6 linked regions of the Homo sapiens genome follow. The protein of the gene in region 2 purifies or fractionates together with the protein of the main gene of each other region. This does not show direct contact. Each region holds a gene or a part of one and is shown on either strand. Other genes may lie near its edges. The genes, in order: PPP2CB, ZNF846, DDI2, SART3, IPO8 and IPO7.

Region 1 (3,821 bases), on a different chromosome or scaffold from region 2:
CAAGGACATGAATTCCAGAGCTACTGCAATATGTTATCTATAATGTCCAATTTTTCAACCACAGATTATAAGACATGGAAAGAACAAGGAAGTGTGACCTCTACACAGGAAAAAACTAAGCAACAGAAACTGTTTCTCTTGGATAGAACAACTAGGCAGGAGATGAAGGCAGGAGAAGACTTGAGCAACACTGTAAACTGACTGTATACCTCATGTCTGTAAAACAACACCCAACAACAGCAGAATACTTTCCTCTCAAGTAAACATGAAACATAGTCATATGCTAGACTGTAAAACATGCCTCAGGCAATTTAAGAAGATTAGATTCTTAAAAGGATATTCTCCAAACACAAGGAAATGAAATTAGAAATCATTAACATGGCTGGATGCTGTGGCTCACACAAGTAATCCCAACACTTTGGGAAGCCAAAGTAGGAGGATCACTTGAGGCCAGCCTGGGCAACATAGGGAGACCCCGTCTCTACAAAAAAATTTAAAAATTAGCCAGGTATGGTGCCAAGCACCTGTAGTCTCAGCTGTATGGGAGGCTGAGATGGAGGATCACTTGAGCCCAGTTGATCAAGGCTGCAATGAGCTATGATCACAGCACTACACTACAGCCTAGGCAACAGAGCAAAGACCCTGTCTCAGAAAGAAAAAAACAAAAAAAAAAACAAGAAGATTTGAAATCAGTAACCTATCTTTATACTTGAGGACCTAGAAAAAGCAGAGTAAACTAAACCTGATGTAAGCTTATGAAACGAGGTTTAGAGTAGAAATAAACAAACAGTAGAAAATCATTACAGAAAAATCAACAAAACCCAAAGTTGATGCTTTGAAAAGCCTTAACTAGACTGGCCAAGAAAAAAAGGAGTAAAGACTCACATTACCAAATCACTAGAGACCTTACTGAAATAAAAAGGATTATAAGGGAATACAATAAATAACTATATGCCAGCAAATTCAGTAACTTTGATAAAACGTACTAATTCCTAAAAAGAAACTACTGAAACTGACTCAAGAAATATGAAATCTGAATGACCTTTCAAATGTGAAAATATTGAGCCAGCATGGTGGCTCACACCTATAAATCCCAGCTTTGGGAGGCCAAGCTGAGAGGATTGCTTGAGACTAGGAGTTTGAGACCAGCCTGGACAACATAGCAGGACCTTGTCCCTATTTAATTTAAAAGAATATAAATAAATGAGTGAAAAAGTTAAAACTCCCCACAAATAAAAGGCCAAGCCCAATTGGCTTCATTGATGAAGTCCACCAAATGTTTAAAGAAAGGAATTGGCCAGGTGCGGTGGCTCTAACCAGTAATCCTAGCACTTTGGGAAGCCAAGGCAGGCAGATTGAGCCCAGGATTCAAGATCAGCCTGGGTAACATGGTAAAACCCTGTATCTACAAAGAATACAAAAATTAACCTGGTGTGGTGGCTCAGCCTATAGTCTCAGCTACTCAGGAAGCTGAAGTGGGAGGATCACCTGAGCCCAGGGAGGTTGAGGCTACAGTGAGCCATGATCACACCACTGCACTCCAGCTTGGGCAACAGAGTGAGACCCTGTCTCAAAAATAAAAACGAGTTAATGCCAATCCTTCACAAACACTTCCAAAAAACAGAAGAGGAGGACTACTGCATTCATTCTGTCACACCTGCACTATTATCCTTGATACCAAAAGTAGACAAAGGCAAAAACAGACCAGCATTTGTTACGAATACAGATATAAAATTTTCCAACATACGTACCAGCAACCTGGATCTAGCAATATGTAAAAAGATTATACACCATGAGCAAGTGGGATTTATCCCAGGAATGCTAGGTTGGTTCAAAACATGAAAATCAATATAATAAACCATATTAATATTAAGGGATTAAAAAACACATGATCATCTCAATAGAGGCACAAAAATAATTGGAAAAATCCACTAGCCAGAAACACTCAAGAAAATAGTGATATTAGGCCTGGCGCGGTGGCTCACGCCTGTAATCCCAGCACTTTGGGAGGCCGAAGCGGGTGGATCATGAGGTCAGGAGATGAGACCATCCTGGCTAACACGGTGAAACCCCGTCTCTACTAAAAAAAAATAAGAAAATTAGCCGGGCATGGTAATGGGTTCCTGTAGTCCCAGCTACTCAGGAGGCTGAGGCAGGAGAATGGTATGAACCCAGGAGGCGGAGCTTGCAATAAGCCGAGATCGTGCCAGTGCACTCCAGCCTGGGCGACAGAGCAAGACTCTGCCTCAAAAAAAAAAAAAAAAAAAGTGATATTATTATTATTATTAAATAATATTAAACAATTATTGTTTAATTATTTAAACTTGATATTATTTAATCTTTAATTATTTAAGCTTTTAAATAATAATAACATTTAGAAATTGTTATGCCAGGCACCAAACCAGACATTCTGTCTTCTTAAATTTTCACCATAGCCCTATGAAGCAGTTAGTTGGAATGGGAGCATCTGCAGTGATTTGCCCATGGCCATTCCAGCCGTAAGTGATGTAGTCATGGTGGGAAAGCAGGACTGCTGTTTCTACTACAGTGTCTTGTTCTTTATTCATTTGTTTTCTTTGCAAAGTCAGATCCTTTATTTGCTTCCTTTTTTGCCATTTACAGCCTTCAATTTGACCCAGCGCCTCGTCGTGGTGAGCCTCATGTTACACGGCGCACCCCAGACTACTTCCTATAAATTTCTCCTGGGAAACCTGCCTTTGTATGTGGAAGTATACCTGGCTTTTTAAAATATATGTATTTAAAAACAAAAAGCAACAGTAATCTATGTGTTTCTGTAACAAATTGGGATCTGTCTTGGCATTAAACCACATCATGGACCAAATGTGCCATACTAATGATGAGCATTTAGCACAATTTGAGACTGAAATTTAGTACACTATGTTCTAGGTCAGTCTAACAGTTTGCCTGCTGTATTTATAGTAACCATTTTCCTTTGGACTGTTCAAGCAAAAAAGGTAACTAACTGCTTCATCTCCTTTTGCGCTTATTTGGAAATTTTAGTTATAGTGTTTAACTGGCATGGATTAATAGAGTTGGAGTTTTATTTTTAAGAAAAATTCACAAGCTAACTTCCACTAATCCATTATCCTTTATTTTATTGAAATGTATAATTAACTTAACTGAAGAAAAGGTTCTTCTTGGGAGTATGTTGTCATAACATTTAAAGAGATTTCCCTTCATTTAAACTAAATTACTGTTTTATGTTGATCTGCATATTTCTGTATATTTGTCATGACAGTGCTTGCATCCTATTTGGTGTACTCAGCAAATAAACTTTTCATTTTAAACAAAAACATTCATTTATTGTGTTGTGCATTAAATGAAAACTTTATTTTTTCTAGACCAGGTCTTGCTCTGTCATCTGGGCTGGAGTGCAGTGGCACAGTCATAGCTCACTTCAACCTTGAACTCCTGAGCCCAAGCCATTCTCCTCCCTCAGCCTCCTGAGTAGCTGGGACTACACTCAACATACCACCACACCCAGCTAATTTGTAAAATATTTTGTAGAGACGGGATCTTGTTATGTTGCCCAGGCTGGTCTTGAACTCCTGGCCTCAAGTGGCCCTGCCAAATTCTTGAGATTATAGATGTGTGCCATCACACCTGGCCTGCTATCTTGAAACGACATAAAATCTTTCAAAGCAGGGCAATGGGACATGGCTATAGTCCCAGCTACTCAGGAGGCTGAGGTGGAGGATGGCTTGAACCCAAGAGCTTGAGGGCAGCCTGGGCAACATAGCAAGATGTCATCTCTAAAAAATAAAAAATAGGCTGGGCATGGTGGCTCATGCCTGTAATCC
Region 2 (4,073 bases):
GAGACCAAGTCTCTTTATTAAATAAATAAATAAACAAATAAATATACATATATATATATACACATATATGAAAACAAAGAATAAAAGAAAAAATACTCTAGTTGACTTTGCCTAGCAACTATCAGACAGTAAGAATACTTTTGTGTCTGGCTTCTTTCAGTCAGCATTATGCTGGTGAGGTGCACCCAAGTTGTTGTGTTCATCCACCTGTGATTTGGTTCATATCTTTGCTGAAGAATATGCCACAGAGGCTGGGCATGGTGGCTCACGCCTGTAATCCCGGCACTTTGGGAGGCCGAGGTGGGCAGATCGCTTGAGGTCAGCAGTTCAAGATCAGCCTGGTCAACATGGTGAAACCCCATCTCTACTAAAAATACAAAGAAAAATGGGTGGCTCACACCTGTAATCCCAGCTACTCGGGAGGCTAAGGCAAGAGAATCACTTGAACCAGGAAGACAGAAATTACAGTGAGCCAAGATTGCGCCACTGCACTCCAGCCTGGTGACAGAGCAAGACTCTGTCACAAAAAAAAAAAAAAAAAGCCACAGAAATATGCCACAATTCACCCATTCTGTGGATCCACATTTGGGTTGTTCCTAATTTAGGCTATTTCAAATAATGTGATAAATAACTTTTACATTTAGCCTGGCACACGTATGCATGTTGCATCACCAAGTCCATATTTAGTTGTCACTGTTTTAAAATGTAGCTGGGCATGGTGGCTCACGCCTGTAATCCCAGCACTTTGGGAGGCCGAGGTGAGTGGATCACAAGGTCAAGAGATGGAGACCATCCTGGCCAACATGGTGAAACCCATCCTGGCCAACATGGTGAAACCCCATCTCTACTAAAAATACAAAAATTAGCTGGGCATGGTGGCATGCACCTGTAGTTCCAGCTACTCGGGAGGCCAAGGCAGGAGAAGCACTTGAACCCGGGAGGTGGAGGTTGCAGTGAGCCGAGATCATGCCACTGCACTCCAGCCTGGCAACAGAGCAAGACTCTGTCTCAAAAAAAAAAAAAAAAAAGTGTTCTCTTCAGCAATGCATGCACATCTTAAAGAAGACTTGATATTGTCACTGACTTTAGTTATGCTTTTATTTATTTATTTTTTTTTTTGTAGAGATGGGGTCTCACTATGTTGTCCCAGCTTGTCTCAAACTCATAGCTTCAGTGGCTCCTCCTGCTTCTGCTTCCCAAAGTGCTGGGATTACAGGGGTGAGCCACTGTGCCCGGCCTAGTTTTATTTATTTATTTATTTATTTAGACGGTGTTTTGCTCTTGTTGCCCAGGCTGTAGTGCATTGCCACGATCTCAGCTCACCACAACCTCTGCCTCCCGGGTTCAAGCGATTCTCCTGCCTCAGCCTCCCGAGTAGCTAAGATTACAGGCATGCCCCACCACACCTGGCTAATTTTGTATTTTTAGTAGAGACAGGGTTTCTCCATGTTGGTCGGGCTGGTCTGGAACTCCCAACCTCAGGTGAACCGCCCACCTCGGCCTCCCAAAGTGCCAGGATTACAGGTGTTTAAGTTACCGCACCCGGCCAATACACATTGATCTACACAAGAGATGCAAAGAAACAGAAAACATGCAAAATATTAACAAATGATCAGTCTACAACAAGGATATATAATAGGTGTTCAATATTCTGGCCTTTCACATTTTCTTTGGTTTAGAATATTCAATCTACAGATAGCCTGGGCAACAAACCAAGACCCTGTCTTTAAAACGTAAATAAATAAATAAAAATATATGAGGGGGAAGGCCAGGCGCGGTGGCTTATACCTGTAATTCCAGCACTTTGGGAGTCCGAGGAGGGTGGATCACGAGGTCAGGAGTTCGAGACCAGCCCAACCAACATGGTGAAACCCCGTCTCTACTAAAAATGCAAAATTAGCCGGGCGTGGTGGCACATGCCTGTAATCCCAGTTACTCAGCATGCTGAGGCAGGAGAATCGCTTGGACCGGGAGACAGAGTTTACAGTGAGCCTATATCACGCCATTGCACTCCAGCCTGGGCAATAAGAGCGAAACTCCGTCTCAAAATATGTATATATACGAGAGGAAAAACGCTGAATCAAAACATGTCTCTTTCACAGTTAATACAACTGTAATTTCTGATACTGGTATAATGAAGGCGGCATCCTACTTCCTGGAAGCCCCTCCGTTTTGAAGCTCTTTGGGAGGTACTGACCTAGGAAGTTCAGCTGCTTTTGATCTCAAAAACACAGCGGAGTATTGCTACTTTGCTTTATAACTGTGGCAATATTTGCTTTTATTTCTATAAACCTACAACTCCTGCACACTTGACAAAGCATTTAACTGCTGAGCAATTTCGCAAACTTCAATAAGCGATGCCCTCCCACAGCCAGATCATCTCCTCCGTCCAGGGCTCACCGGAACGCACTGCAATCGCCCTGTCGGTGACAAGAGGACGCTGGGGCCCTTTTCCACAACAGCTGAGATGCTTTTCCTTCTGGAGAAAGGACACAAAGGTTGACTGGCTGCTTTTAAACAGAGGGGCACGGTGGTTGGAGAAAAAAACACGTCTCCACCGGGGACCCTGGGCCAGGCCCAGACTGATGCGGGCGCAGCGGGAAGAGGCGCTCAGAAGAGAAGGCGGGAACCCCCCGCCTCGGGGTCCTGGCGGGGAGGAGGCGCCGCTTCTCCGGAGCAGCAGCGGGAGGCCGGCGCGTCTCAGACCTAGCAGAAGTCCGGAGCGTCACCCTCCGACCCTCGCTCCGCCTCCCGCTAGGCCCTCCTGCCCCGCCCTGCCTAGGTTGAGCATGAGCGCTGGCTGAGGTGAAAACCCAGCTAGGAAGCTGCTGGAGAGCGGGGAATACGTATAGCTGCGCGCCGGCTGGCACTTCCGCTTCCGGTTGCGCACGGCATTAAGTGTAGGGGCCGAGCCCCAAGAGCTTTGGAATGAGGATGATGTGAAGCTGAGAGAAGAGCTGGGGCCACCTCTTCGACACGCGTACAGAAAAGTCCCGTTTTCTCGCATCCCAGGTGGACCAGGATCCAGATCAATCTGTCGATATTGGGAACGACGCCGGACCAGGAAACCCAGCGCCAAGGGCCGGGTTGGAGGCGGGGACTGGCGCAGCGGGCGGGGCACGCGTGGAGGCGTCACCTAAGGCTTCGATTGCAGACAGCGGGATGCTCATCGAGTGCTTTTCTTTTCTTTTTTAATTTCTCTTTTTAGTTTTTTGAGATAAGGCTCCGGTCTGTCGCCTAGGCTGGAGTGCAGTGGCTCGGTCATAGATCATTGCAGCCTGGAATTCCTGCGCTGAAGCTATCCTCCCGCCTCGGCCTCCGGAGTAGCTTGGACCACAGTTGGGCCCATCACGCCCAGCTAAGTTATCTTTTTCTAGACACTTGGGTCTCACTGTGTTCCCTAGGCTGGTCTCGAACTCCTGAGCCTAAAGGATCCTCCCCCCTCGGCCTCCCAAGCAGCTTGGACCACAGGTGTGTGCCACCACGCCTGGCTAATTTATTTTTATTTTATTTTTATTTTTTTGTAGAGACAGGGTCTCTCTTTGTTACCCAGGCTGATCTGGAACTCCTGGGCTCCAGTGATCCTTCCACCTTGGCCTCCCAAAGTGCTGGGATTATAGGCGTGAGCCACCACCCTAGGGAAATTCTTTTCTGCAGGATTTTCTCCTTGTTTCTTCAACCCTCTGCAGGGATATAAACATATTTACAAAGATAATCCCGCTGTAGTCCTAGCTACTGCGGGAGAATCGCTTGAGCCCAGGAGTTCGAGACCAGCGACACCCTGTTTGAAAGATTAACCTGATGGGGCTGGGGGCAGTGGCTCACGCCTGTAATCCCAGCACTTTGGGAAGCCGAGGCGGGTGGAACACGTGAGTTCAGGAGTTCGAGACCAGCCTGGCCAACATGCCGAAACCCCATCTCTACTAAAAATATTTTTTAAAAAATAGCCGGGTGTGGTGGTGGGCGCCTGTAATCCCAGCTACTCGAGAGGCTGAGGCAGGAGAATTGCTTGAACCTAGGAGACTGAGGTTGCAGTGAGCTGATACGATGCCACAGTACTCCAGCCTGGGCGA
Region 3 (3,618 bases), on a different chromosome or scaffold from region 2:
CTTCCTCAGCCTCCCAAAGTGTTGGGATTACAGGCGTGAGTCACTGCGCCCAGCCGTGGTTTTTTTTTTTAGAAACAAGTGTTTTGCCATGCTGCCCAGGCTGGTCTCAAATCCATAGGTTCAAGTGATCTCCCCACCTCAGCCTCCCAAAGTGTTGGGACCACAGGCATGAGCCACCATGCTTGGCCAGAAAGAAGTTGTTAACAAAATACTTTCACCTACTATGTCCAGAGTATTTATTCGGATGATATTAGGAAGTCGATGTTCTAAATAAAAAGGACCTGATATGTAGAATTATTTCATTACTTAAACATTACAAAAATTAGCACAAGCTATACTACCAGCAACAAAAGGTTATTTAGGTAAAAAGCCATTTCTTTTTAATTCTTTGAAGTTGGTACATCCCCTTCACTAAGCCTGGAAACATATGTGTATCTGTTTTAATCTTCCAAACTTTTACTAAAATAAGGTAATTACCAAAAAAGGATAACTGTTATTAGTAGGTTAGAAAACACTGCTATTATCAGCTAATGTTTCTTAAATAATGGCACCAAGACTGTGGAGGTTAAAAGGAAAAAAAAAAAAAAGACATTTCATAAAATGATAATATATCCTCATATTAACACACAGCATCACGACTAAGATGATAAATTACACCCCAAATGCAAAACCTTGTAAGGAGCTATGTCAAATTCATTCAAGCTTACCTTGCAGGTAAGATTAAAACTATTAAGTTAGTCTCTGTCTGGTTGTTCAAAATTCCTCCCTTCCTACAAAATACTTAAGTTACAACCAAAACTGTAGTTAATATAAAAACTTGAGCCAAAAAGTGATGGGAGTCAATTCTGTTGTTTTTTTTTTTTTTTTGGACACAGGATCTCACTCTGTCACCCAGGCTGGATTGCAGTGGCAGCGATGATGGCTCACAGCAGCCTTGACCTCCTGGGCTTAGGTGATCCTCCCATCTCAGCCTCTCAAACAGCTGAGACCATAGGCGCGCCACCATGGCTGGCTAATTTTTTTTTTAAATTTCTTGTAGAAACAAAGACTCACTATGTTGCCCAGGCTGGTTTCAAATTCCCAGGCTCAAGTGGTCGTCCTGCCTTGGCCTACCAAAGTACTGGGATCACAGGCATAAGCCACCACGCCCTGACTCAAACTGTACTTTATACATAAAACTAAGCCAAAAGGTGATGGAGTTGATTCTGAACAAAGTCAACCTGGAAAACTCCATCTGCCACCCACACCCATTCTAAAGCTCAATGACAGACATCTGAATGTTCTCCAGTAAAACAGTGGCAAAAGCTGCCTGGCTGTTTTTAAAACTCTTACCACTTTCGTCTTTAGGATAAAGCTATTCCCTGAACTTGTAACTCTTAATAATTTACTGTACTAGAAAAAGCAATGTGTGATACTAGTCATACTGATGAATAATGCCAGCACAAGACTGTAAAATAACCCAAACTCAAAAGTAAATTCTATTCAGCTTCTAGAAAATACATCCCAGAGTCACCGTTCTATAATAAATGGGGGATTTCAGCAAAACTGTTACCCCATTTTACCTAGAAAACTTAGCTCCATCATTACATTTAAACAAGCTAAATAACTGAGACTTAGAAAAAAGTATTAGGTAGCATGATTTCAATATATACAGTGCTAATATGGCCTGATGACAATACTGTAATCTCACACCATAACACTGCATTTTCAGTAACGTTCAATTATGCTGGTCAGGCATGGTGTCTCGTTCCTATAATCCTGTCATTTTGAGAGGCTGAGGCGGGTGGATTGCTTGAGCCCAGGAGTTCAAGACCAGCCTGGGCAACATGGCAAAACCTCATCTTTACAAAAAATACAGAAATTAGCTGGACATGGTAGCAGGCACCTGTAGTCATAGCTAGTCAGGAAGGGGAGATGGGAGGATCAGTCTGGGTGACAGAGTAAGACCTTGTCTCAAAAAAAAATTTTTTTTTTAATTAAGTAAATAAAAATTTATACTTCTTTTTGTTGGTTCTTCTGTCTTCGGTGAAGTTAGGGCTGCTCACACACAGTAGCAATGATACTTTTCAAAATAAACCAGGCCTAAGAGGCATGGTGGCTCATGCCTGTAATACTTTGGGAGGCGGAGGCGAGAGGATCTGCTTGAGCCTGTGAGACTGAGACTGAGGCTGCAGTGAGCCATGGCTGCGCCACTGCACTCCAGCATGGGCAGCAGAGCAAGACTCTGTCTATATAAATAAAATAAAATAAAATAAATAAAATAAAATAAAACAGTCCTAAGAAAAGGAAAGAAATAGGGAAATACTGTTGGACTCAAAAGTTAACATCTGCTTACTGTCAAAATTTTCTTTAGGAAAATCACAAAAACAAAAACATCCAAAAAAAACTTCCTAAAAAAATTTAGGAAGCTTCTAAAATGTGTCTAAGCAAAATAACCCCAATCTATCTTAAACACAGCAATGGACTGAGCTGTTCTTAATCTGTTGAAATACTAAAAAACAGAATGTTTCTCTTTTTTATGAGATAGTGTCTCACTCTGTTGCCCAGGCTAGAGTGCAGTGGTGCCATCTTGACTCACTGCAACCTCCGCCTCCCAAGTTCAAGCAATTCTCCTGCCTCAGCCTCCCAAGTAACTGGGGTTACGGGGGGTGTGCCACTGCACCCTGCTAATTTTTTTTTAATTTTTATTATTATTTTTTTTTGAGATGGAGTCTCGCTCTCTTACCCAGGCTGGAGTGCAGTGGTGCGATCTCAGCTCACTGCAAGCTCCGCCCCCTGGGTTTATGTCATTCTCCTGCCTCAGCCTCCTGAGTAGCTGGGAATACAGGCGCCTACCACTACGCCCGGCTAATTTTTTGTATATTTAGTAGAGACGGGGTTTCACCGTGTTAGCCAGGATGGTCTCCATCTCCTGACCTCGTGATCCACCTGCCTCAGCCTCCCAAAGTGCTGGGATTACAGGCGTGAGCCACCGCGCCTGGCCAATTTTTATATTTTTAGTAGAGATGGGGTTTCACCATGACCAGGCTGGTCTCAAACTCCTGACCTCAGGTGATCCGCCCCCCCCCCCCCCCCTCCGGAGCCTCCCAAAGTGCTGGGATTAACAGGCGTGAGCCACCACGCCGGGCCAGAATACAGACTTTTTCATTATTGTATTAAGAGATGGGGTTTGGATATGGTAGCTCACACCTGTAATCCCAGCACTTCGGGAGGCCAAGGCAGGAGGACTGCTTGAGCCCAGGAGTTGGAGATAGGCCTGGACAACACAGCAAGACCCTATCTCTGCTAAAAATAAAAAATTAGCCAGGTGTAGTCCCAGCTACTCAGGAGGCTGAGGTGAGAGGACTGCTTGAGCCCAGGAAGTCAAGGGTGCAGTGAACTACAATCATGTCACACTGCACACTGCACTCCAACCTGGGTGACAGAGTGAGACAATGTCTCCAAAAAAAAAAAAAAAAAAAAAAAAGGAAGATCAAAGAAGGAGGTTAAGAAGACAAATAATGAACACATCTACTACTGGACCATGAGACTAATTAAAAACTGGAAAGGTTCCTACCCCTTCTGAAGCCCACACTTCCCGGGCTTACCCATCAATAACAAGTATTGAAGAGTTTGGCC
Region 4 (3,618 bases), on a different chromosome or scaffold from region 2:
TTTGTTCATATCTGTATTGATCTTAGTTGAAAAGTATTTTAAGTAGGAAGCTGTCAGACTTGTGGTGGCAGATACAAGTTTTCCAAAATTCTAATTTTCACTTGAAAGCTTGAATTCTATCACATGCAACAAATAATGTCAGTGGTTTTCCCCAGAGTGGCAGCCTCACTTTGTTAATTTTCAAAAATGTCTGCCAAATACCCAGGTCTGAGTAACTGACCGTGGTTTGTCACTCAAGTTTCCTTTCAAGTAAAAATGGTGTCCTTGAAAAAAATGACTTGATTAGCTTGCAACTCAAACAGTAATATGCTTTTTTTTTTTTTTTTGGCAATAACCATTGTACTTCAGTATGCAGAAGGGCTTTAAGTGTACTTAGTATTTCATCACACAGTGCATTAAAAAGATTTCTACTGCCTTGATTTGTGCTAAGGGCCACCATTACTTGTGCACTGTCTTGAAGATGTCAACACAGTGAAAAAGTCCAGTAATGTCTTGGTATTATTATAAAAGGAGTTTTGACTTTGCAGGGCCCCTGAGAGGCTCTGGGAGATCCTCAGGGGTACGTGGATCTTACTTTGAGAACCAGTGCTCTGAATTTATTCTGAGCATCATAATATGTATATATAATTATGTATATTTAAAATGTTTTAAAAACAAATATGAATACACTGTTGCATAACAGTTATGATTAGCAGAATTGTGTAGCTGTTGTGATTAGCAGTGTACAAAAAGGATCTGTTTGCGACCAGCCTTGCCAACCTGGTGAAAACCTGTCTCTATTAGAAATACAAAAATTAGCTGGGTGTAGTGGTGGGCACCTGTAATCCCAGCTACTCAGGAGGCTGAAGCAGGAGAATTGCCTGAACCTGGGAGACAGAGGTTGGAGTGAGCCGAGATCGTGCTATTGCACTCCCACCTGGGTGACAAGAGCGAGACTCCCTTTCAAAAAAAAAAAAAAGATCTGACTCTGGGTATGAAATTTGACACTACCCTGGATTCATAACTCTCCTGTCAGTAGGACGCCATAGTAAAATTTCCCTGGGGACTGTATCAGGTTACAGAGAGCTGTTGGACTCCCCCGCCATGTGCCGCACATGTGAATGCTGTAAAGGCAGAATGCTGGTTGCAGATCACAATATCAGGTACACTTTCCAGTAGCCCCTACATGGCTGAGGGAGAGAGTGCTTCAGGGAAATACTTCGTAGGTGACTGTAGAGACTCTGGAAGGAGAAAGCATCATGGATAGATCTGAAAGCTAAGGTCTTCTCAGAAGCTAGAGTTACTGAAGAGTGAGTTTCTACCTGGGAGAAGACGGCCTCTCCCTTCGAGTGCCTTCCACTTTGTGTCCTGGTGGCAGCAACTTTTTGTTTTCTGCCTTAGAGCTCATGGTGACACCCAGCACTGCCGGAAGGCTCTGCACCGGGCCGTCCAGTGCACCAGTGACTACCCAGAGCACGTCTGCGAAGTGTTACTCACCATGGAGAGGACAGAAGGTGGGACCCCCAGCTCTCTTCTGGCTTGGAGCCTAACCCATTTGCTGTTTGGTCTCAAGTAGGAGCATCTGGTTACAGTCTGGGGACAGACTGTGTTTATGCTGCCACCTTAGGTGGTGCCCTATGATTAGACTGTCACAAGTGTCCTGAAAATGAGTCCTCCTGCAGCTCTTCTCAAATTCTGCAGCTACAAGGAGGACTCTGTGATGTCACTGTAGCACAGGGTTCTAATTCTCTGTGGGGGGGACTGTGCGTTATACAATGTTTAGGGGCATCCCTGGCTTCTAGCCCTGAAATGCCAGTAGCAGCTTCACCACCACAACCAAACATGACAACCAGAAATGTCTCTTAACATTGCCAAATGTCTCTTGATGGGCAGGATCCCTCCTTTGAGAGTCACTGTGCTCTAGTACAACATCTATCCAACAAAGGAGCTTGGAGAGGCAAATGGCTCAATGTGTCCTTTGCATCCCTTGTTAAATTTCAGAGCCTTCAGTGTTAGCTAGAACCAATAGAAAAATAATGTGAACTTATCTGTGGGTATTGGTCTGGATTTTGGGTATGGACCCCTCAGAACTGGCTTGCAAAGACCACCAAAAAATAAGAAATAAATGCCTCAACATTTGAGTAGCTCTTAAAATTCTTCAGTCTTAATATAAATGTACTTTTGCATTAGAACGTTCGTTTTCATATTCTTTGCCATTTAGAGCCCTTAATAGATCATATTCTGGTTTTCAAGTCTCTCCTGAAAGGAGAGGGACATTTTAAACCCACTTAGAAGGACTATTTGAATTCTGAACTTCAAGCCTACAGGGATTACATTTTCTTATTGTTTGATGGGAGAGATCTCTTCTGGAGGTACAGAGAAATTAAGAAAAATTTATGTGATTGTATCCTTCAAAATCCTAAAGAGTGAAAGTTTTGCTTCTCTTTCTTTCAAGGTTCTTTAGAAGATTGGGATATAGCTGTTCAGAAAACTGAAACCCGATTAGCTCGTGTCAATGAGCAGAGAATGAAGGTAATGACAATGTTTGAAGTCTTTGGCACCTCTGGTAGCTATTTTGGCTCAGTTTGGTATGGATGTTTCTTGTCAAGATGTTTTACATTTTCCTAAGTGTCTTTTACTCAGTATTAATTATAAAATATTTAGATCAATGCTTAAACCTGTCTTGTGTCATTTTTACATTGTTCTAAAACATCAGCCCCAATATTAAGTACTTGTTTCATTTAGTGAGGGAATTTTGGCTCTAAAATTTACGAGAATTGATGAAAAAGAATAAAGAAGAGCCTCACTTAGCCTAGTGAGTGGAACATGAACACCCCAACTTATTTAGGGCTTCAGTTTTATGGATTTTTTTTTTTTTGAGACGGAGTCTCGCTCTGTTGCCCAGGCTGGAGTGCAGTGGCATGATCTCGGCTCACTGCAAGCTCTGCCTCCCGGGTTCACGCCATTCTTCTGCCTCAGCTTCTCGAGTAGCTGGGACTACAGGTGCCCGCTACCACACCTAGCTAATTTTTTGTATTTTTTTAGTAGAGATGGGGTTTCACCATGTTAGCTAGGATGGTCTCGATCTCCTGACCTCGTGATCCACCCATCTCGGCCTCCCAAAGTGCTGGGATTACAGGCGTGAGCCACCGCGCCCGGCCAGTTTTATGGATTTTTTTGCCTTCCTTTTGGTGAGTAATGATTAGGGTGAGGAAATTGCTAATGTAACAGAGACATCAGATCCAGAATTCCAACGAACCTGAATGAGCCCTGGTGTGGAACAGCCGTGAGCCTGTCCACGTTTTTCTCCTGATCTCTGCTTTTCATTAGTAATGAATTTCCACTCCTTCTCCCCTTTCATGACAAATCAGTACAGTGAATGTAATTGCCACATCCAGCGATGCATCATCTTCCCACTTTTCTAGGCTGCAGAGAAGGAAGCAGCCCTTGTGCAGCAAGAAGAAGAAAAGGCTGAACAACGGAAAAGAGCTCGGGCTGAGAAGAAAGCGTTAAAAAAGAAGAAAAAGATCAGAGGCCCAGAGAAGCGCGGAGCAGATGAGGATGATGAGAAAGAGTGGGGCGATGATGAAGAAGGTAAGGAGCTCTTGAGAAATTGTGTTTTGAAACGTCTTAAAGTTA
Region 5 (3,618 bases), on a different chromosome or scaffold from region 2:
GAGATACTAATTTTTGTACCCCAAGTATAAGAAAGAAACATGTATTATTAGCGAGGCAATTCCTGAAGAGGAGAGCTAAGAGCTATTTCCAAAGAAATAAATGAAAAAGGCAACAGAAGAGACATAAAACAGAAAAAGAAAATATTCCTTTAATAAAACCACAAAGTTAAATGCTAAAATAAGTTATCTGATAACATAGATAAGTAATCATTTCCTCAATGAGATTTCAACTTTAACTGGAACTGAAAAGAAAATAGGGGGAAAAATTTCTTTTCTATAAACTATCAATTCAATGTTATCACCAAATATGACCTTACATGACATTTTCAAATGGTTAGAAAACAAACTTGGCAAAATTAGGATTCCACAGGGCAACTAAAAAAAAAATAAAGCATTTTCAGTTGAACAACCAGTAACTCAGATTCACTTAAACTGGTAAAATTAAACAAAATGATGCCTTTTCTTCACGTTATCAAATCTATTTGAAAAATCCCTTTGTAATACTCTTAAACTTTGAGAATAGGTGGAAGAAATTTCAACAATGATTATAATTAAGCCTTAAGGACATAAAAGGAGCAAAGCCACAGAGAACCGTCCCGTAATAAAGATAAAAGATCTCCTTTAGTGCCAGTAGTAGCTGCTCCTTTAAACAATAAATGTCATATTTGTAAAAAATAAAACTGAAGCTTTTCATTTTTTAAAATTTCATCTTCAGGTTGATTCTCCCAGTCCTTTCTCATTCCAAGCAAAGGATGGTTATGAAAGGCCATCCTTCATGCATTACTGTGTAGAACCACTCGAAGATTAAGGGAGATCTGAAAATTTAAGATTTTGAAAATAAATGGATACATGATGGTACCACAGGGGTATCAGTCCCATGACTGGCATTTGGGCAACCAATAAGAATAATAGTGATTTTTTCTTTTTAACCAGTACACCTATTTTCTCCTCTTAACAAATTAATTGCTCTAAGAGTTCAATGTTTGTTCTCCTTCCTGTTACCCGTCGTACTTCCTTCCTTTTCCACTGCTTATGTCATGATGGCTATTAGATACTAAGGGCTAACGTTATATTCAACCTCTTGATATTAAAAAATTTCATTCCTCTACCTCTGTTTTCACCTATTTGTCCCTCCCATTTTCAAAAGATACCTAATTACTATCTTGTATGTTGAAAAGAATTTGTTTCTCCTATTTTAAGATTGCAAAATTTTTATGACTTTACAGCTGCTCTGTCCAATAGAGCAGCTGCTAGTTAAATATGCACACTTTAAATGAATCAAAAGTAAATAGAATTAAAAATTCAGTTCCTCAGTTACAACTAGCAACATTTCAAGTGCTCAACAGTCATTGATGCCTTGTGGCTAATATTAGATAGCACTGACACAGAACACTGTCACTGCAGAAAGTTCTGAGGGACACTACTGCTCTACAGCATCTAATCTATGACTGTAAAAAACTGGAGACAGTTCTTCTAGTTTATACCTACTCTATCCTGTCTTCTCTGAAGGAAAACATGCTCAATTCATAAATGTGAATAAAAATACAGGGAAAGATTAAGACAGGTAGTAGGTAAAAATTCCCAGAATCAGTCTCTCTGTATCAAAGAAAAGAAAAGCAGGTAGTAAAAAAACTCAAGAGATCATTACTAAGAATAAAGGTCATTTAAGTAGCAAGACTTACACAATTGTTTTGGTTAAGTATCATTTTTTTTAAATCTTACCTCTTTTTGTGGCAACATACGACAACAAAATCTTTTCCAAAATATCTTGAGGCAAAGAATTACAAATGCAAAGACCACTAAGTAAAATAATATTCTTTGAGTGTCCCTCTTTATTACTTTACCTCTTTAGAAAATGAAACATGAGGCCAAGGATTAGATCCAACAGCACCCACCCTCAGATCTAACCATTTCATGCTTTCTAGTAATCACAAATATATAGCACCACATACCTCACTAAATCTGGAGACCGAATTATTCCTTCCACAATGTTATCACGTATTTGCTGGCGATCGTTTTCGTGAATGTTGAATGGAAATATTGCTTCTCCTGGTGGAGGTTCTCGATCTGGCCAGTATTGTGTCACCATGTTCTTCAGGTAAATGGCAGCTGAGTTTGAGAAAAAATGCTAATGTAGCAGTACCAAAAAGGATGGCTTTAATTCAGCCTTACAGAGCATGAAAGTCCAAACCCTTCAATGTTAAACATGAAACCCAGCAAAAATGGATACTCTTACAGGTATAAACAGCCAAATCAGGAAGGGAAAGTGGATAAGAATTTAAAGGTTTCACTTCAGCTAGTCTAAGCAGAAAACATTTCATTAAGTCAAGACCCAGAGCTTACAGGACAGGAAAATTATCTAGAAATAATGCATAGTAAACATACTTTGAGATCATAAAATCATACTTTTCGCAATGCCTAATTCTGAGGTGACAACAGGTAAAGTTCTACTTTCCTTCATGAAGATGGCTTTTTTTGTTTTTTGTTTTCCCACTGGCTACTGTCAAACACTAGCATTTTGGGGTATCTCTTCTTTTTATAGTATTGGTAATTTTCATCCAACCTTTTTGAAATATGTACTACTTGTAAATATAATAGGGAAATGAACATCAGCCATCAAAAATTTTTGGAAAAAAGCTCAGAAAATTTTTATATGTTCACATCTATCAAAATACATAATCTGATTTTGTTCTGTTCTTTTTAATCGTCTTCAACCTTTAACAAAAGGCTTCTGAAAGAAACAGGCTGACATATTGCTACAGCATTTTAAGAAAGAATGTGAAGCTTTTCTTTTCTTTTTTTTTTTTTTGAGACGGAATCTTTCTCTGTCATCCAGGCTAGAGTGCAGTGGCAAGATCTTGGCTCACTGCAACCTCTGTCTCCCGGGTTCAAACGATTATCCTGCCTCAGCCTCCCAAATACCTGGGATTACAGGCATGTGCCACCACACCCAGCTAATTTTTGTATTTTTAGTTAGACAAGATTTCACCATGTTGGCCAGGTTGGTCTCGAACACCTGACCTCAGGTGATCTGCCTGCCTCGGCCTCCCAAAGTGCTAGGATTACAGGTGTGAGCCACTGCACCTGGCCAGAATGTAAAGCTTTCTAACCATCCCAGTTGAACAGTGAATGTAAGTAAATACTTATAATGTTGTGTGTGTGTGTGTGTGTGTGTGTGTGTAAAGAATACAGATACGTGATTTGCAAAGCAGCATAACTTTCTTCCCTTAAGCTTCTCTTCTTTCCCCACCCAACTCTTTCTTCACCCAACTTTTAACATATAACTAAATTCATGACCCGGAGCAGTGACTCACACCTGTAATCCCAGCACTTTGGGAGGCCGAGGCGGGCGGATCACCTGAGGTCAGGAGTTCGAGACCACCCTGGCCAACATGGTGAAACCCCGTCTCTACTAAAAATACCAAAATTAGCCAAGCATGGTGGCAGGTACCTGTAATTCCAGCAAATTCCTTGAACCCAGGAGGCGGAGGTTGCAGTGAGCTGAGATCATGCCACAGCACTGCAGCCAGGGCAACAGAGCAAGACTCTGTCAAAAAAAAAAAAAAAAAAAACTAAATTGGGTAGTCAAAGCACTATACCATAAAGAATACACCAATA
Region 6 (3,618 bases), on a different chromosome or scaffold from region 2:
AATTGGACTAAGTTTTATGGCTACTTTGTTATCATGAAAGGTAAACTTTTGCTTAAGATTTTTTGGATAGCTTTAGTAATTAAATATCCATGGTCAGTTTTTTTGTTTGTTTGTTTTGTTTTGTTTGTTTTTTGTTTTTTGTTTTTTTTGAGTGAGAGTCTTGCTCTGTTGCCCAGACTGGAGTGCAGTGGCACATTCTCTGCTGACTGCAACCAGATTCAAGCAGTTCTCCTGCCTCAGCCTCCCAAGTAGCTGGGATTACAGGTATACACCACCACAACCGCCTGATTTTATATATATATATATATATATATATATTTTTTTTTTTTTTTTTTTTTTTTTTTTTTTTTTTGAGACGCTGTCTCGCCCTGTCGCCTAGGCTGGAGTGCAGTCGCGCAATCTCAGCTCACTGCAACCTCTGCCTCCCAGGTGCAAGCAGTTCTCTGCCTCTGCCTCCTGAGTAGATGGGATTATAGGTGCCTGCCACCACACCTGGCTAATTTTTTATATTTTTAGTAGAGAAGGAGTTTCGCCATTTTGGCCAGGCTGGTCTCAAACTCCTGACCTCAAGTGTTCTGCCCACCTCAGACTCCCAAAAGTGCTGGGATCGCAGGCATGAGCCACGTCACCCGGCCCACGGTCAATTTTAATAGGAACTTGTGAAGCCATGATTGATATCATCGTGAGCTTTTATTTATTTTTTATTTATTTCATATATTTTTTTGAGACAGAGTCTCGCTCTGTCGCTCAGGCTGGAGTGCAGTGGCGCGATCTCAGCTCACTGCCTCTGCCTCCCAGGTTCACGCCATTCTCCTTCCTCAGCCTCCCAAGTAGCTGGGACTACAGGCACCCGCCACCACGCCTGGCTAATTTTTTGTATTTTTAGTAGAGACGGGGTTTCACTGTGTTAGCCAGGATGGTCTTGATCTCCTGACCTCGTGATCCGCCTGCCTCAGCCTCCCAAAGTGCTGGGATTACAGGCGTGAGCCACCACTCCCGGCCCGTCGTGAGCTTTTAATAGCTCCATGAAGACTACTAGACTTTCTCTAAAATTAGATTTCCCAGTGCAGTGCCTCAGCAGTAAATATTGGTCATCTAATGCTACAATAGGGTTAATTGAGGCAACAAAGAAGTTAATATTTTTAGAATGTTTGCATGCTATTAATTATAGTCTTAGAATATCTTGCTATCTTTTTTTGTAGTGCATTCCCTTATTCGTGGAAGCAGCCTTAGAAAGACTGACAAGAGAGGTTAAGACAAGTGAACTTCGAACTATGTGTCTGCAAGTTGCAATTGCAGCTTTGTATTATAATCCACACCTACTACTCAATACCTTAGAAAATCTTCGCTTCCCTAATAATGTTGAACCAGTTACAAATCATTTTATTACACAGTGGCTTAATGATGTTGACTGTTTCTTGGGGTAAGTGATGTATTGCAATTTTACTACATTTGCTTTGGGAGGAACTCTGCTTATTTAAGAAAAGAAAACAGTTTTTTTTTTTTTTTTTTTTTTTTTTTTTTTTAGGCTTCATGACAGAAAGATGTGTGTTCTCGGACTCTGTGCTCTTATTGATATGGAACAGATACCCCAAGTTTTAAATCAGGTTTCTGGACAGATTTTGCCGGCTTTTATCCTTTTATTTAACGGATTGAAAAGAGCATATGCCTGCCATGCAGAACATGAGAATGACAGTGATGATGATGATGAAGCTGAAGATGATGATGAAACCGGTAAGGGATTTTCAATGGAAGAAGACAAAACTTATCTACTTAGAAATATTACCGCACTGGGCCGGGCGCAGTGGCTCAGGCCTGTAATCCCAGCACTTTGGGAGGCTGAGGCAGGTGGATCACACGGTCAGGAGTTCGAGACCAGCCTGGCCAGTATGGTGAAACCCCACCTCTACTAAAAATACAAAAATTAGCTGGGTGTAGTGGTGGGCACTTGTAGTCCCAGCTACTTGGGAGGCTGAGGCAGGAGAATCGCTTGAACCCATGAGGCGGAGGTTGCAGTGAGCCAAGATTGCATCACTGCACTCCAGCCTGGGTAACAGAACGAGACTCCATCTCAGATTAAAAAAAAATATATATATATATCACTAGCCCTTCTCCCAAATAAATGTGGGATCATACCCAAATGCTTTCATTCACAGAAAAGACTTCCTTTCTTCTCACTAGAGTGATGTAATCAGGAACTTCAGCTGTATTACCAACATGTAGAACAGTTCAAACCATTATAGTATGCAACCAACAAAGATTTGTTTATTTTACACATTCTCAGCACTGTAGATACAAAGATGAATGAGATGTCATGCAGTTCTTCAAAAGTTTTCTATCCGACTGTGGGAAAGTATTACAAAGCCAAATAATTATGTATATAATAATAGAGTTGACACGAAGTGCTGAGTCCACTTAAGAGCGAGAGATTATAGTTCCCTTTTTTATATGGTGGCATGAGCCTATAGTCCCAGCTACTTGGAAGTCTGAGGTATCAGATTCGCTTGAGCCCAGGAGTTTGATTCCAGCCTGGGTAACATAGTGAAACCCCAGTTTTTTGTTTTTTGGCTTTTTTTCCTTTGAGACGGAGTTTTGCTCCTGTTGCCCAGGCTGGAGTGCAACAGCGCGATCTTGGCTCACTGCAACATCTGCCTCCCGGGTTCAAGCAATTCTCCTGCCTCAGCCCCCCAGATAGCTGGGATTATAGGCACGTGCCACCATGCCCAGCTTATTTTTGTATTTTTAGTAGAGACAGGATTTCACCATGTTGGCCAGGCTGGTCTGGAACTCCTGACCTCAGATGATCCACCCTCCTGGGCCTCCCAAAGTGCTGGGATTACAGGCGTGAGCCACTGCACTGAGCCGTGAAACCCCATTTCTTTAAAAAAAGTTGTGGGGATTACATGAGGGAATCCTTGACGCTTAAATAGTGCTTGGCAGATGGCACTGAATTAACAGTATTAACAAAGGTACACATATCATTATAGTTACTATTACAAGATTTATGGGGGTTTTTTTTGTTTGTTTTTTTTTGTTGTTGTTGTTGAGACGGAATCTCGTTCTGTCGCCAAGCTGGAGTGCAATGGCAATCTTGGCTCACTGCAACCTCCGACTCCCGGGTTCAAGCGATTCTCCTGCCTCAGCCTCCCAAGTAGCTGGGATTACAGGCGTGTGCCACCACACCGGCTAATTTTTGTATTTTTAGTAGAGATGGGGTTTCACCGTGTTGGCCAGGGTGGTCTCAATCTCCTGACCTCATGATCTGCCTGCCTTGGCCTCCTAAAGTGTTGGGATTACAGGCGTGAGCCACCGCGCCCGGCGAATTATGGGGTTTTCATTTTATTTTTAAGCTTCTAAAGATTTATGGTCTTAATGTTGACTAAATTTATTGGAGACATCCATCCTATCATCTATTAATTCTAAAACCTAAGCATACTTGCACTATAACATTATGTTAATTAAATGTTGATAAATACATTTTATCTATAAGACTGTACACTATCAGTGTATAAATTGATAAAATATTAAGAGAAATTATTATAAGGGTTTCAACATAAGATAGCTATTGCTATTTTTGTCTTTTATCATTTACTAACTTAGCCAGCCTTTTAAAAAAAA

The links.
Region 1: the proteins of ZNF846 (region 2) and PPP2CB purify together in Homo sapiens (co-immunoprecipitation; one large-scale study listed by IntAct). This does not show direct contact.
Region 3: the proteins of ZNF846 (region 2) and DDI2 purify together in Homo sapiens (co-immunoprecipitation; one large-scale study listed by IntAct). This does not show direct contact.
Region 4: the proteins of ZNF846 (region 2) and SART3 purify together in Homo sapiens (co-immunoprecipitation; one large-scale study listed by IntAct). This does not show direct contact.
Region 5: the proteins of ZNF846 (region 2) and IPO8 purify together in Homo sapiens (co-immunoprecipitation; one large-scale study listed by IntAct). This does not show direct contact.
Region 6: the proteins of ZNF846 (region 2) and IPO7 purify together in Homo sapiens (co-immunoprecipitation; one large-scale study listed by IntAct). This does not show direct contact.

The regions. Positions count from the first base shown.
Region 1 is NC_000008.11:30,785,109-30,788,929, reverse strand, and holds the end of PPP2CB (serine/threonine-protein phosphatase 2A catalytic subunit beta isoform), read left to right. Parts: intron 1-2,622; coding exon 2,623-2,695; 3' UTR 2,696-3,314; downstream 3,315-3,821.
Region 2 is NC_000019.10:9,765,889-9,769,961, forward strand, and holds the start of ZNF846 (zinc finger protein 846), read right to left. Parts: upstream 2,851-4,073; 5' UTR 2,401-2,850; intron 1-2,400. UniProt on the Homo sapiens protein: May be involved in transcriptional regulation.
Region 3 is NC_000001.11:15,651,907-15,655,524, reverse strand, and holds part of DDI2 (protein DDI1 homolog 2), read right to left. Parts: intron 1-3,618. UniProt on the Homo sapiens protein: Aspartic protease that mediates the cleavage of NFE2L1/NRF1 at 'Leu-104', thereby promoting release of NFE2L1/NRF1 from the endoplasmic reticulum membrane.
Region 4 is NC_000012.12:108,530,097-108,533,714, reverse strand, and holds part of SART3 (spliceosome associated factor 3, U4/U6 recycling protein), read left to right. Parts: intron 1-1,380; coding exon 1,381-1,493; intron 1,494-2,434; coding exon 2,435-2,511; intron 2,512-3,404; coding exon 3,405-3,573; intron 3,574-3,618. UniProt on the Homo sapiens protein: U6 snRNP-binding protein that functions as a recycling factor of the splicing machinery. Promotes the initial reassembly of U4 and U6 snRNPs following their ejection from the spliceosome during its maturation.
Region 5 is NC_000012.12:30,682,349-30,685,966, forward strand, and holds part of IPO8 (importin-8), read right to left. Parts: intron 3,543-3,618; exon of another isoform or gene 3,452-3,542; intron 2,110-3,451; coding exon 1,953-2,109; intron 1-1,952. UniProt on the Homo sapiens protein: Involved in nuclear protein import, either by acting as autonomous nuclear transport receptor or as an adapter-like protein in association with the importin-beta subunit KPNB1.
Region 6 is NC_000011.10:9,436,552-9,440,169, forward strand, and holds part of IPO7 (importin-7), read left to right. Parts: intron 1-1,202; coding exon 1,203-1,423; intron 1,424-1,528; coding exon 1,529-1,734; intron 1,735-3,618. UniProt on the Homo sapiens protein: Functions in nuclear protein import, either by acting as autonomous nuclear transport receptor or as an adapter-like protein in association with the importin-beta subunit KPNB1.